Linked DNA regions of Homo sapiens: region 1 is linked to region 2. A link means that fine-mapping ties the variant in region 2 to the plasma level of a protein whose gene starts in the linked region. Region 2 holds a variant in brackets. A gene starts in the other region. All regions are shown on their forward strands.

Region 1 (5,366 bases), not on the chromosome of region 2:
CCATCTTTCGGCTATTGTGAATAATGCTGCTATGAACATGGGTGTGTAAATATCTCTTCAATTCCCTGCTTTCAATTCTTTGGGGCACGTGCACAGAAGTGGAATGGCTGGCTCATATGGTAATTCTATGTTGGATTTTTTTTTTTTTTTTGAGACAGCCACACTGTTTTCCGTAGTGGCAACACCATTTTACATTCCCAATTTCTGTTGTTTTTAAGCCACTTAGTTTGTGACACTTTATTACAGCAGCCCTGGGATTTATTTTATGTTATTTATTTATTTATTTTCTTTGAGACAGAGTTTTGCTCTTGTTGCCTAGGTTGGAGTGCAATGCCATGATCTTGGCTCACTGCATCCTCTGCCTCGTGGGTTCAAGTGATTCTCCTGCCTCAGCCTCCCGAGTAGCTGGGATTACAGGCATGTGCCACCATGCCCGGCTAATTTTGTATTTTTAGTAGAGACGGGGTTTCTCCATGTTGCTCAGGCAGGTCTCGAGCTCCCAACCTCAGGTGATCCGCCTGGCTTGGCTTCCCAAAGTGCTGGGATTACAGGCGTGAGCCGCTGTGCCCGGCCAGCCCTGGGATTTTAAAACAAGTACCTACTATGCGTCAGGCACTGGGCTCTGGAGATACCATGGTAAACCAGGGGGACAACTTCTTTGCTTTTGTGGTGCTTATCTTCTCATTGGAAAGACAGAAAATAAATGAGTAACAGAATGTTGGGTAGTGATGAGTGCTGCAAAAGGAAAAGCCCAGCTAGGGGGCTGGGGCATGTGTGTGTAGTGTGTGTGCATGCGTGTGCATGCATATGTGCATTAAGAAAATGAGAGACAGGGGAAAGCAGGTATACTTGACCCAGTCTCCAAGCCTCAGATTGGATCAAGACACAGCCTGGGCTGCAAGGAAGGTGTGTGCACTAAAGAAACATGAGTAAAGGCCGGGCGCGGTGGCTCACGCCTGTAATCCCAGCACTTTGGGAGGCCGAGACGGGCGGATAATGAGGTCAGGAGATCGAGACCATCCTGGCTAACACAGTGAAACACCGTCTCTACTAAAAATACAAAAAATTAGCCGGGCGTGTTGGCGGGCGCCTGTAGTCCCAGCTACTAGGGAGGCTGAAGGAGGAGAATGGTGTGAACACGGGAGGCAGAGCTTGCAGTGAGCTGAGATCGTGCCACTGCACTCCAGCCTGGGCGACAGAGCGAGACTCCATCTCAAAAAAAAAAAAAATAGAAAAGAAATGTGAGTAAAGGCTGGGCACCCATGTGGCAGCGATGGGGCCAGTGGTAGGGATCTAAGAGCAACTCACTCTAGGACAGTGGTTAAGAAACAGGCCGGGTGCAGTGGCTCATGCCTGGAATCCCAGCACTTTAGGAGGCCAAGGTGGATGGATTGCCTGAGCTCAGGAGTTTGAGACCACCCTGGGCAACATGTCAAAACCCTGTCTCTAACAAGATACAGCAAAAAAAAGAATTTAGCTGGACCTGGTGGCGCACACCTGTAGTCCCAGCTACTGGTGAGGCTGAGGCAGGAGAATCGCTTGAACCTGGGAGGCAGAGGTTGCAGTGAGCCGAGATCACACCACTGCACTCCAGCCTGGGTGACAGAGTGAGATTCCATCTCAAAAGAAAGAAAGAGAAAGAAAGAAAGAGAGAGAGAGAGGGGGAGAGAGAGAGAGAGAGAGAGAGAGAGGGGAGAGAGAGAGAGAGAGAGAGAGAGAGAGAGAGAGAGAGAGAGAAGAAAGAAAGAAAGAAAGAAAGAAAGAAAGAAAGAAAGAAAGAAAGAAAGAAAGAAAGAGAAAGAAAGAAAGAAAGAAAAGAAAGAGAAACAGCCAGGGGCCTTGAGAATAAAATGCACTCTCCATAATTGGCCTCCCTGGCCCTGCAACATCAGGCCCTGCCCACCTTGGCCACCTGGCACAGGCCCTATTTGTCACATGTCATGCTTTAGCTTTGTTAACCTGTTTTCAGGTCTTCTTGAAATACACCATGCTGGTTCCTTGTATATGGACCCTTTCTGCTTGGAACTGTCCCCCCACCCTGTTCCCAGGCTTCCTCTTCTCCATCCCTGAGGGATGCGCTACCTCCCAGGAGCTTTTCTGAATGGCCTGGGCTGGCGTAGGTCCTCTTCCTGACACTCCCCTGGAACAGAGATTGTCACCAAGTGGATGCCCAACAAATATTTGTTGAATGAATAAATGGGTAGATGAATGAAGCCCAGACTCTGCCAAACCACCCTTCTTTACTTGTTCTTCCCCAGGCCCACTGAGATGTTCCTCTGTCTGCCATGCCTCACGGCCTGACTGACCGTACCAGTGAACCCAGCGTACCCCTGGCCCTGGCAGCCGGACGGCTGATGCATGCAAAGCGGGCATCTCCTTGCCCAGCCGCCTGACCGCCCTGGCGCGGCCGAATCTGAAAGCTAATGACATTATTGTGCAGAGACACAATGTCTGTGGGCATTTGCTGACCCGAGCTTTGGTGAGAGCTTAATCCAGCATTCTCACCCTGCTTTTCGCAGGAGCACAGCGGTCACTCATCTTGGCACCGGCACTTCTGGGGAAGGTATAAATGCCACCTCCCGCTGGCCGAGCTTCACGGCACTCGCAGGGGCTGGTGTCACTGGTAAGATTGCCTCTCTTGCTTGTCTTCCCTTCTTTCTCTCATCCTCACCCCTGTCCGCAAGCATGGGAGCACCCAGATTCTGACAAGTGACTTTGGGCAGAGACTTCAATGCTGTTAGCCTCAGTTTTCTTTTCTGGTAACTGGGAAGGGGGTTAAAAAGCCTTCTTTATTGTAAGGATTCAAGAGAAGTTAGGGGATCATCCAGCACAGTGCCTGGCACACAGTGGGCATTGGGGCAATGTTCTTTATTATTAATATTAAACAGACTATCAGCATCCTTGTTTCGCCAGTCGCTGAGGAGGAGAATGTAACTGAGGGTTTTGCAAGAATCAAACCAGTGACAGTTCAGCATTGTTTCTAGGTGGGTGAGTCAGTTTTCCTCCACATCTGCAATTAGGGGGCACCCACTCTGTGCCTAGCCTCTGGGAGTGCTAGGGGATAGGATGCAGCCACAGGTATGTGACAGGTCCCAGCAACAGGTGATTTCAATGCCACTAAAGCATGGTAGAAATGACTCTAATAATGCCACAATTGCTGCCATTTGCTGCATGCTGAGTGTGTTCTGGGACCACGGCCAAGTGCTTCCGGTTTTATACATTACATAATTGAATCCTCACAACCTGTTCACAGGTATTATTAGACATCATTACTGTCCCCATTTTATAGAACAGGAAGTTGAGGCATAGGGAGAGGATGAGACCTGCCCAGAGTCTCAATTCTGGCAGGCAGCAGAGACTGCTCCTGAACTGGACCAACTGAGCTTCTTCAGTCTGTGAACACTCAGGACTGGGAAGTGATATGGCAGGACCTCAGGCACTCTGACAAGCCCAGAGGGCTGGTTTCTTGCGGGAGAGCAGTAGATTTGGCTGCCAAGGTGCTTAACTGCATTTCTTCCTCCTGGGAAACATCCAGTATTGGCCTTTCATGTGGAAGGGGCTTCTGGAAGCTGGCGTTATCTCTGAAGAGGGAGGCCAGGCTTCCTCTCTTACCCCTGGGGAAACACAGCCTGGTTTGACCACCCCTTCTGCAGGAAGGGGGAAGAGGCTGACAATTTTCCAGGCTTTTCTGATGTTCTCACTAGCTAAGGCAGGTCTACCCTGCTGCCTGCCACAGTGCCTGGATTTCTACCGTCGCACCCATTTCTTCTCTTTCTTGTAATGTGGGTTCTGTATCAGATGATTTCACTAATGGGGGAGTAAAACCAGTGGCAGAGAAGAGAAATCTAGGTACCAGGATGGGGAGAGGAGTCCCAGGGAGAGGGTGGGAGAAGGAGCAGGGGAACAGGGAACTTTGTGAGTTCCTAAACTGGGCACCACCACACCACCAAATACAGCCAATGCATAGGTTTTGTTTGTTCCACACAATTTTATTTAAGAAATTACTGCATAAAGGCAGAAGTTCTGGGATTGACCATTCTATATTCTGTGTGGTATCCATTGTCTGGGGTTGAGTGTTGGGAACCCACTTTGGACCTCATTTAAGCTCTAGTTTATTACTGCTCTCTTTCTTTGAGTAGACCTCGTTTTTCCCTCCTCCTGCAGCTGGCCTGGATAGAAATAAATGAAGCTAAGGACAGAAGTTGAAGTAGCTGCTTACGGACCCCACAGCTCTGGGACAGTCTGAAACCAGGAGAAAAAGAGAATGTTTGGGGCCAGAGGGGAGTGGTCTCAAGGCCCCACAGAGTGAAAAAGCCAGTGGCCCCTCCAGGTCCTCACTGCTGCTTCCCATGTCTTCCAGGTCATTCCTGCACAGGACAGTCCACCATGGCCTCAGATCACCAGACCCAGGCGGGCAAGCCACAGTCCCTCAACCCCAAGGTGGGTACCTCTCAGAGGAGGGGGCATGCAATGCTCCTCCCCCAGACTTAGTTGCCCTTCTGTAAAATGGGCTTGGCATCTTTCTTCATGGGTACCCCCTCTCGACCCCTGCCCCTCTCTGGGACTCAGTCTCCTCTACCCACACAGTTGGAGCTGATACTGAAAGTCCCTCCCCAGCCCATAGCTGGCATGCTGGGATTCCCAGTACCAGCCTCTGGCTTTGGAGACTTCAGTTTCTCTCTCCCTTACCTGTTTTGCCACACCCTATTGTCTACAGGGCTCCCTGAAACTGGAGCAGACCCTCATTCTCAGTCAGAGATGGGATTAGTAGATGGAAGGTGGGTGTGAGTCCTGGCTCTGCACCTGCTGTGTGATCCGGGCCAATTATTTGATCCCTCTGAGCCTCAGTTCCATCTCTATAAAAGGAGGAGTCAGATTTATTGCACAGGGAAGTTGTGAGAGCCAAAGAAACCAGGCTCAGCCTAACACCCGGCCTGGGGTGCGCATCCACCTAACACCAGCAAATAATGCCGCCTTTGATTTCTCATCCACCTGTCCACCCAAGGGCGGCAGGATCTTATCCCAACGTCAGAGGCTTGTCACACCCAGTCTGCCCTCAAACCTCTATCTAGGCACGGCCACCTGACTGCCCTCCTGTGCCTCCCTGCTTTGGTAGCCCCGGGCACAGGTTCCTTCAGGAATGGCCCCTTTGTCTGACTCAGTGCCTCCTGGGCCAGGGAAGCCTGAGCAGATACAGCCCCTCACCTGCTCACCCCAATCTGTCCCTTTTAGGGCTTACTTTCCAGAAGAAGGACAGACAATAAATAAATGAATATATGATTTCCAGTAGTGAGAAGTGCTACAAACAATTGTAAACTAGGGGAAGGGGCTCCTGAGAGTCACAGTGGTTGTGTTAGCTCAGGTGG
Region 2 (5,366 bases):
GAGTCTCCAGCCACCCAGCTACAAGCTAGGAAGACGCCTTGTAGAAGGCTCCTTACAGGGAGGAAACCGAGTTGGAAAGGCGAGACAGCAGTGTGGGCTCACCCGGAGCAAGACGTGTGAAATCAGCTTTTGACAGCGTGGCTGAATGAGGATCTGGAGATGCGAGGCGCTGGGCAGACTCTCTGACTAGATCCCTGGATATGAAGAGGCAAAGCCAGCTCTAGATGGATTCATAGTGAGTGTCTGCTTCTGACAATAACTGGCAGAAAGCTGATGAGCCTGGAGCAGGGCTGTGAAATGCAAATCCAGTGAAATCCAGCCACTCCTACAAAAACCCACCACATCTTAGGTTACTTGTGGGTGGAAACGCTTTTTCTCTCAGTTGAAGCTTGGTTGGAAGCAGATGTTTCACTTGGGCATTGGAAGGGTCTGGGGAAATGTGCTGCCTCCTAGGCCAGGGACATTAGCCAGAGGCCAGAATTAACTGAGGCTTTAGCACCAGGTGACACCAACTTCATTGAGAAGCCAGCGGCAGTCCATAAAGAGGAAAAACCCAAGGCCTGCCCTGGACTCTGTCCCAGCCATGCTCCCAATTGGCCCTGTGATCCTGTCCATGTCTCTTCCTTGCTGGTCTCTGGCTAACGTCCACAGGTGGCATTCATGGGAGGTTCCAAGTTGGTCATCAAAGACTAAACATCTGGGCTTGGCAGCTGAGCAGATGATAAGCAATTAACTCTGTATTACCATCAGAGGCTCCACCTCCCTCTGTAGTCCCAGTCCCTTGGGAAAATCTCAGAGCTGGAGCCCTTCCCTCATCCTCTGGCTCCCCACCCCATGGCTTCTCGAACAGTGTTCCCACCAGGACCTTGGGACAGGAGAGAACGCCTCACCTGAAGGACTCCCAAAACTCAGGTTTCTCTAAGCTGCTGGGGCAGATGCCAAGAGCCTCCACTGCTCTCTCACTGCCAAGGACCTGGGTGTCCACCTAGATGTGGCCTTCAGGAGGCCAAGCAGTCCTTCCCCTCGCCTTTGTGTAGGACACTGGCACCTCGGCTGACTTCGGGGACAAGAAAAGGCAGGCTCCCGACCCCTTCCAAAGAATCATCTGGGGTTCAAGATGAGGCTTCTTTCTCCCGTCCCAAGTTTTGGTGTTTCTTCTGAGTCTGCTCAGAAAGATGAAATTAGGAGCAGACATCTCAGGTCCTGCCTGCCATAGCAGATGGCTCCTTCCCTGAGCCTCCATAAGCAGCACAGCACACTCATGCACACACCCACTGGCATTTTCTCTCACACTTTCATACACTTGTGTCAACGCAGGTTCACAGCTCACACTTAACTGTGCATGCACACACAGATTTAGCACTTGGATTCATTCCCACACATGCACGTTCACAACCTGTGTGTGTCACCCTTCCTCCCCTACTCATGAGGGTGTATGCCCTGGTTCATACATGTAACCCTCACATGTGACACACCCAGTTCACACCCATTCATGCACACATACCTTCTCTTGTGCACACGTCCCCTTTCCCAGTGGTACACCCTCCTTCATGTGCACGCAGATGCTCCCAGCTATACCAGCTTGCTAGTGTTCTGCACAGGTGCTTGCCTTGGCCCTCTGAATCCCTGACGCTTGGTTTTTCTGTGTTGCAGTCCTCCCGAGAGCTGGATGACAGCAGCAGTGAGTCCAGTGACCTCCAGCTGGAAGGCCCCAGCACCCTCAGGGTCCTGGACGAGAACCTTGCTGACCCCCAAGCAGAAGACAGACCTCTGGTTTTCTTTGACCTCAAGATTGACAATGAAAGTGGGTTCTCCTGGGGCTACCCCCACCCCTTTCTAATTTAGTCTCTGAGTCCCAAAAAGAAGTGCAGGCAGAGCCATCTGCCAGGCCCAGGAGAGCTCTGAGCTCTGGCCAACAACTGCAGCCAGGCTGGGCAGAGCACTCCGGCTCACCTGGGCTCCTGGCGTGTCATTTGCTGGCTTGAATAAAGATGTCCGCCTTATCCAGTGCCTGAGTGTGCGAGAGAGGCAGATGCCTCCACAAGTGCACCTCTGACCAGTTCTTCTCTCAGACAGAGAGCCTGGGGAACACACTCCTAGACAGAAACACAATGCGTGAGCTCATTGCCGTGAGCCCTGTCATCCAAGTAAGGCCTCTGGCTGTGCTACACGTTTCTGAGTAGAGGGCCAATCCCACAGGTGGCTGCACAGGGCTGCCCACAGATCCAAGGTCACAGAGGGATCAGACCCCTTATCCTGGAAGCCCCTCTACTTCCTCCAGTGCTTGCCCTGGCTCTGCAAATGCCCCTCCTTGAGCCAGAGCCCCAGGCCCTACCCTGTGGCATGGACTCAACATTGGGGCTAGCCCAGCCAGACAGAAACAGCAAGTGTTTTCATGGTACAGAAAAGTCATTTGCAGACCTCAGTGGGAGGCTCTTGGCCTTGCTCTGAGTGGAGTGCTTTCTATGTCCCAGGGCTCTGACTGGGCTGGGGTCCTTGAGGGGATTGGAGGAAGGAGCATGGGATGGAGAGCTAAGTTCAAGCAGCCTGGGATCTCTAGTATAGGTGGCTGAGGCTGATAGAAGACAGGAGGGACCTGTATCCATGGGGTTTGGCCAACTCTGGGGCCGGTAGTGGAGGAGGGGAGAGCTGGATCCCCAGCTGGTGAACAAAGTGTTTGGAGGGCAGCCGAGCCTCCCCTTCTGACTGCTATCCCACCACAACCAGGATCAGAGCTGCATTTGGGGGCTGATGTGTGGCTACTGCCAGCAGACCCCAAGGTGAGGTCTCTAGATGGTGAGTCAGCAGCCCTAGAGGACCCCCTGCTCCCACCCCAGAGCTCTCTGTGACCCTGGGTCCTCACCCTGCCCTTCTCTCCTGCCCAGCCCAGAAGATTAGCCAGCTGGCTGCGGTGAACCGGGAAAGCAAGTTCCGCGTGGTCATCCAGCCTGAAGCC[T/C]TCTTCAGCATCTACTCCAAGGCCGTGTCCCTGGAGGTGGGGCTGCAGCACTTCCTCAGCTTTCTGAGCTCCATGCGCCGCCCTATCTTGGCCTGCTACAAGCTGTGGGGGCCTGGCCTCCCAAACTTCTTCCGGGCCCTGGAGGACATTAACAGGCTGTGGGAATTCCAGGAGGCCATCTCGGGCTTCCTGGCTGCCCTGCCTCTCATCCGGGAGCGTGTGCCCGGGGCCAGCAGCTTCAAACTCAAGAACCTGGCCCAGACCTACCTGGCGAGAAACATGAGCGAGCGCAGCGCCATGGCTGCCGTGCTGGCCATGCGTGACCTGTGCCGCCTCCTCGAGGTCTCCCCGGGCCCCCAGCTGGCCCAGCATGTCTACCCCTTCAGTAGCCTGCAGTGCTTTGCCTCCCTGCAGCCCCTGGTGCAGGCAGCTGTGCTGCCCCGGGCTGAGGCCCGCCTCCTGGCCCTACACAACGTGAGCTTCATGGAGCTGCTGAGTGCACACCGCCGTGACCGGCAGGGGGGCCTGAAGAAGTACAGCCGCTATCTAAGCCTGCAGACCACCACGTTGCCCCCTGCCCAGCCTGCTTTCAACCTGCAGGCTCTGGGCACCTACTTTGAAGGCCTGTTGGAGGGTCCGGCGCTGGCACGGGCAGAAGGAGTCTCCACCCCACTTGCTGGCCGTGGCTTGGCAGAGAGGGCCTCCCAGCAGAGCTGAGAGGAGGGGGTGACCAGCTTGGAGTCTCTGGTGGGCAGAGAGGGATGGGGTCCCTGAGCCAGGCCCCACCCATCACAGCATTCCCAGGTCCTGGTACCCAGCCCTCAGTTGTCATTTGGTTCAGAATCAGTTCCCTTTCTCTGGGACCAAATTTCCCTTCTCTAAACATCCTACAGAGAAGGTTCCAAAGCTGAGCACCCATCACCCTAGGTGTGCACCAGACTCCTATTAGCCCCTCCTTCCAGGAGCTAGAACCAGGGAGGTCCTGAGTGAGGAAGGCATGACCTCTGGGCTCTCTAGGTGGCCCTGGTCTTGCCCCATCCATCCCACCTGCCACTACCTTGGGTGTCCTTACAGCTCTGCCCTGACCCCAGCCCCTGCCCCTGGACACCTGCTGACAGCTCCCACACAGAACAGTCTGAGGTGATGCTGGCTACAGCCCTGGCAGCCCATGGCAACTCAAAGTGCCTTCCAAACCAAACTGCCCCTCATGAGGTTAGGGTCCCCCACCCTCCACCTGCCCAGAGGCCAACTCTGTTCCCTTCTCCTTTCATCCCAGAGGGGCCTCATCAGCAAAGACAGAAACTGATGTTCCATGCATGTCCCTGCTTCCAAAGCCTGACCTTCCAAAGCTTGCTTCCTTCCTCCTGGCTGCACAGACACCTCTGCTTGGCCACAGCTTTGCTCTTTGGTCCTCAGGCCACCAGACCCCTCACAGCATGGCCCTTGGCTCTTCCTGCACTGCCCTCACCCTCAGCCGTCCCAAGGAGTGCCCAGCACTACTCAGCATGTAGTCCAGGACCTGCGGCATCAGCATCCCCTGGGAGCTTCTTAGAAATGCAGACCTGTGGGCTCTACCACAGGCCTCTGGAATCAGAATCTTCAGGGTGGGGCCCAGCAGTCTGTGTTTTAACAGGTTCTCCCGGTGATGCTGGTGCATGCTCAAGTTTGAGAACCGCTGCTCTCATAGACTGCTCCTCCAAGGGGAAGCAGTGTGGAACAGCAGAGAAAGTCCCGTCCCTATCTCTGACTGTGCAGTGAGTGTGGCCTAGGAACAGGTCCCTTCCTAAGCTCTAGTGTCCCCATCTGTAAAATGGGCTGATTGGCCTCCACGGTCAGAGCGGCCATCTGGCTGTGCCATCCTGCATTTTTAGGAATGGAAAGCAGGCCTCTGAGGCAGTGGACAGGAAGACTTCTCATCCTTGAATTCTAGCTCCCATTCCAAACTGTTAGTCCCCAACCTTGTGGTCACATCAGAGGTCAACAGCAGAACAGAGGCAGGTCAGGGTTGTCCGCTCTGATTAGCAGAACGACAGCCCCTTCCTCCTCCTCCCTCCTTCCCATCCCTACTCATTAGCTCCCTGCTCCTGGGATGCTTCCCAAGCAGCCCAGGCCTCTAGCCTCCATGGCTGATGACCTCAGCTTTCACACTGGTGAAGTCTGTGTACCCATACTGCAGCCCCATCCCATGGGGCCCCTGAAGACCCACTGAGGAATTCCGTAGGGTCTTGTTCCCACGACCGGAGTGCTGGCTCTCACAGTGAATTTTGATGCATTTAAAATAAGATTCTGATGCCAGACTGTTAAAACAGGCGCTGGTTCTGAAGCACCGATGGAAACAGATTGATGCAGATGGAAGGAGGAAGGGAGACTGGGCCCACTGATTTCCAGCCCCACCATGTGTGCTGTTTTC

Direction of the effects. Alleles are on the strand shown, and positions count from the first base shown. The strength of an association depends on the size of the effect and on how common the allele is.
For the plasma level of the protein whose gene starts at base 2,596 in region 1, C is the low allele of the variant in region 2 and T is the other (weak association).

The links. PIP is the posterior inclusion probability: the model's chance that the variant is causal. The UK Biobank Pharma Proteomics Project read protein levels with antibody pairs (Olink). The fine-mapping took linkage between variants from a reference panel, not from the people measured, so its PIPs are less certain.
Region 1: CRYBB2 starts here. The variant in region 2 is fine-mapped to the plasma level of the CRYBB2 protein (UK Biobank, PIP above 0.99).

Annotation. Positions count from the first base shown.
Region 1 is chr22:25,217,044-25,222,409 of GRCh38, forward strand. It overlaps CRYBB2 (crystallin beta B2), which reads left to right and starts at 2,596. Exons shown (of 6, transcript NM_000496.3): 1 at 2,596-2,623; 2 at 4,361-4,440. The coding sequence starts at 4,387.
Region 2 is chr15:74,041,336-74,046,701 of GRCh38, forward strand. It overlaps PML (PML nuclear body scaffold), which reads left to right. Exons shown (of 9, transcript NM_033238.3): 8 at 1,654-1,804; 9 at 2,886-5,366. The coding sequence ends at 3,673. Among named protein-coding and RNA genes, the nearest start is that of GOLGA6A, 39 kb to the right of the region's middle. RefSeq lists an enhancer at 1-473 and a silencer at 5,028-5,219. The variant T/C (reference allele first, on the strand shown) is at 2,957.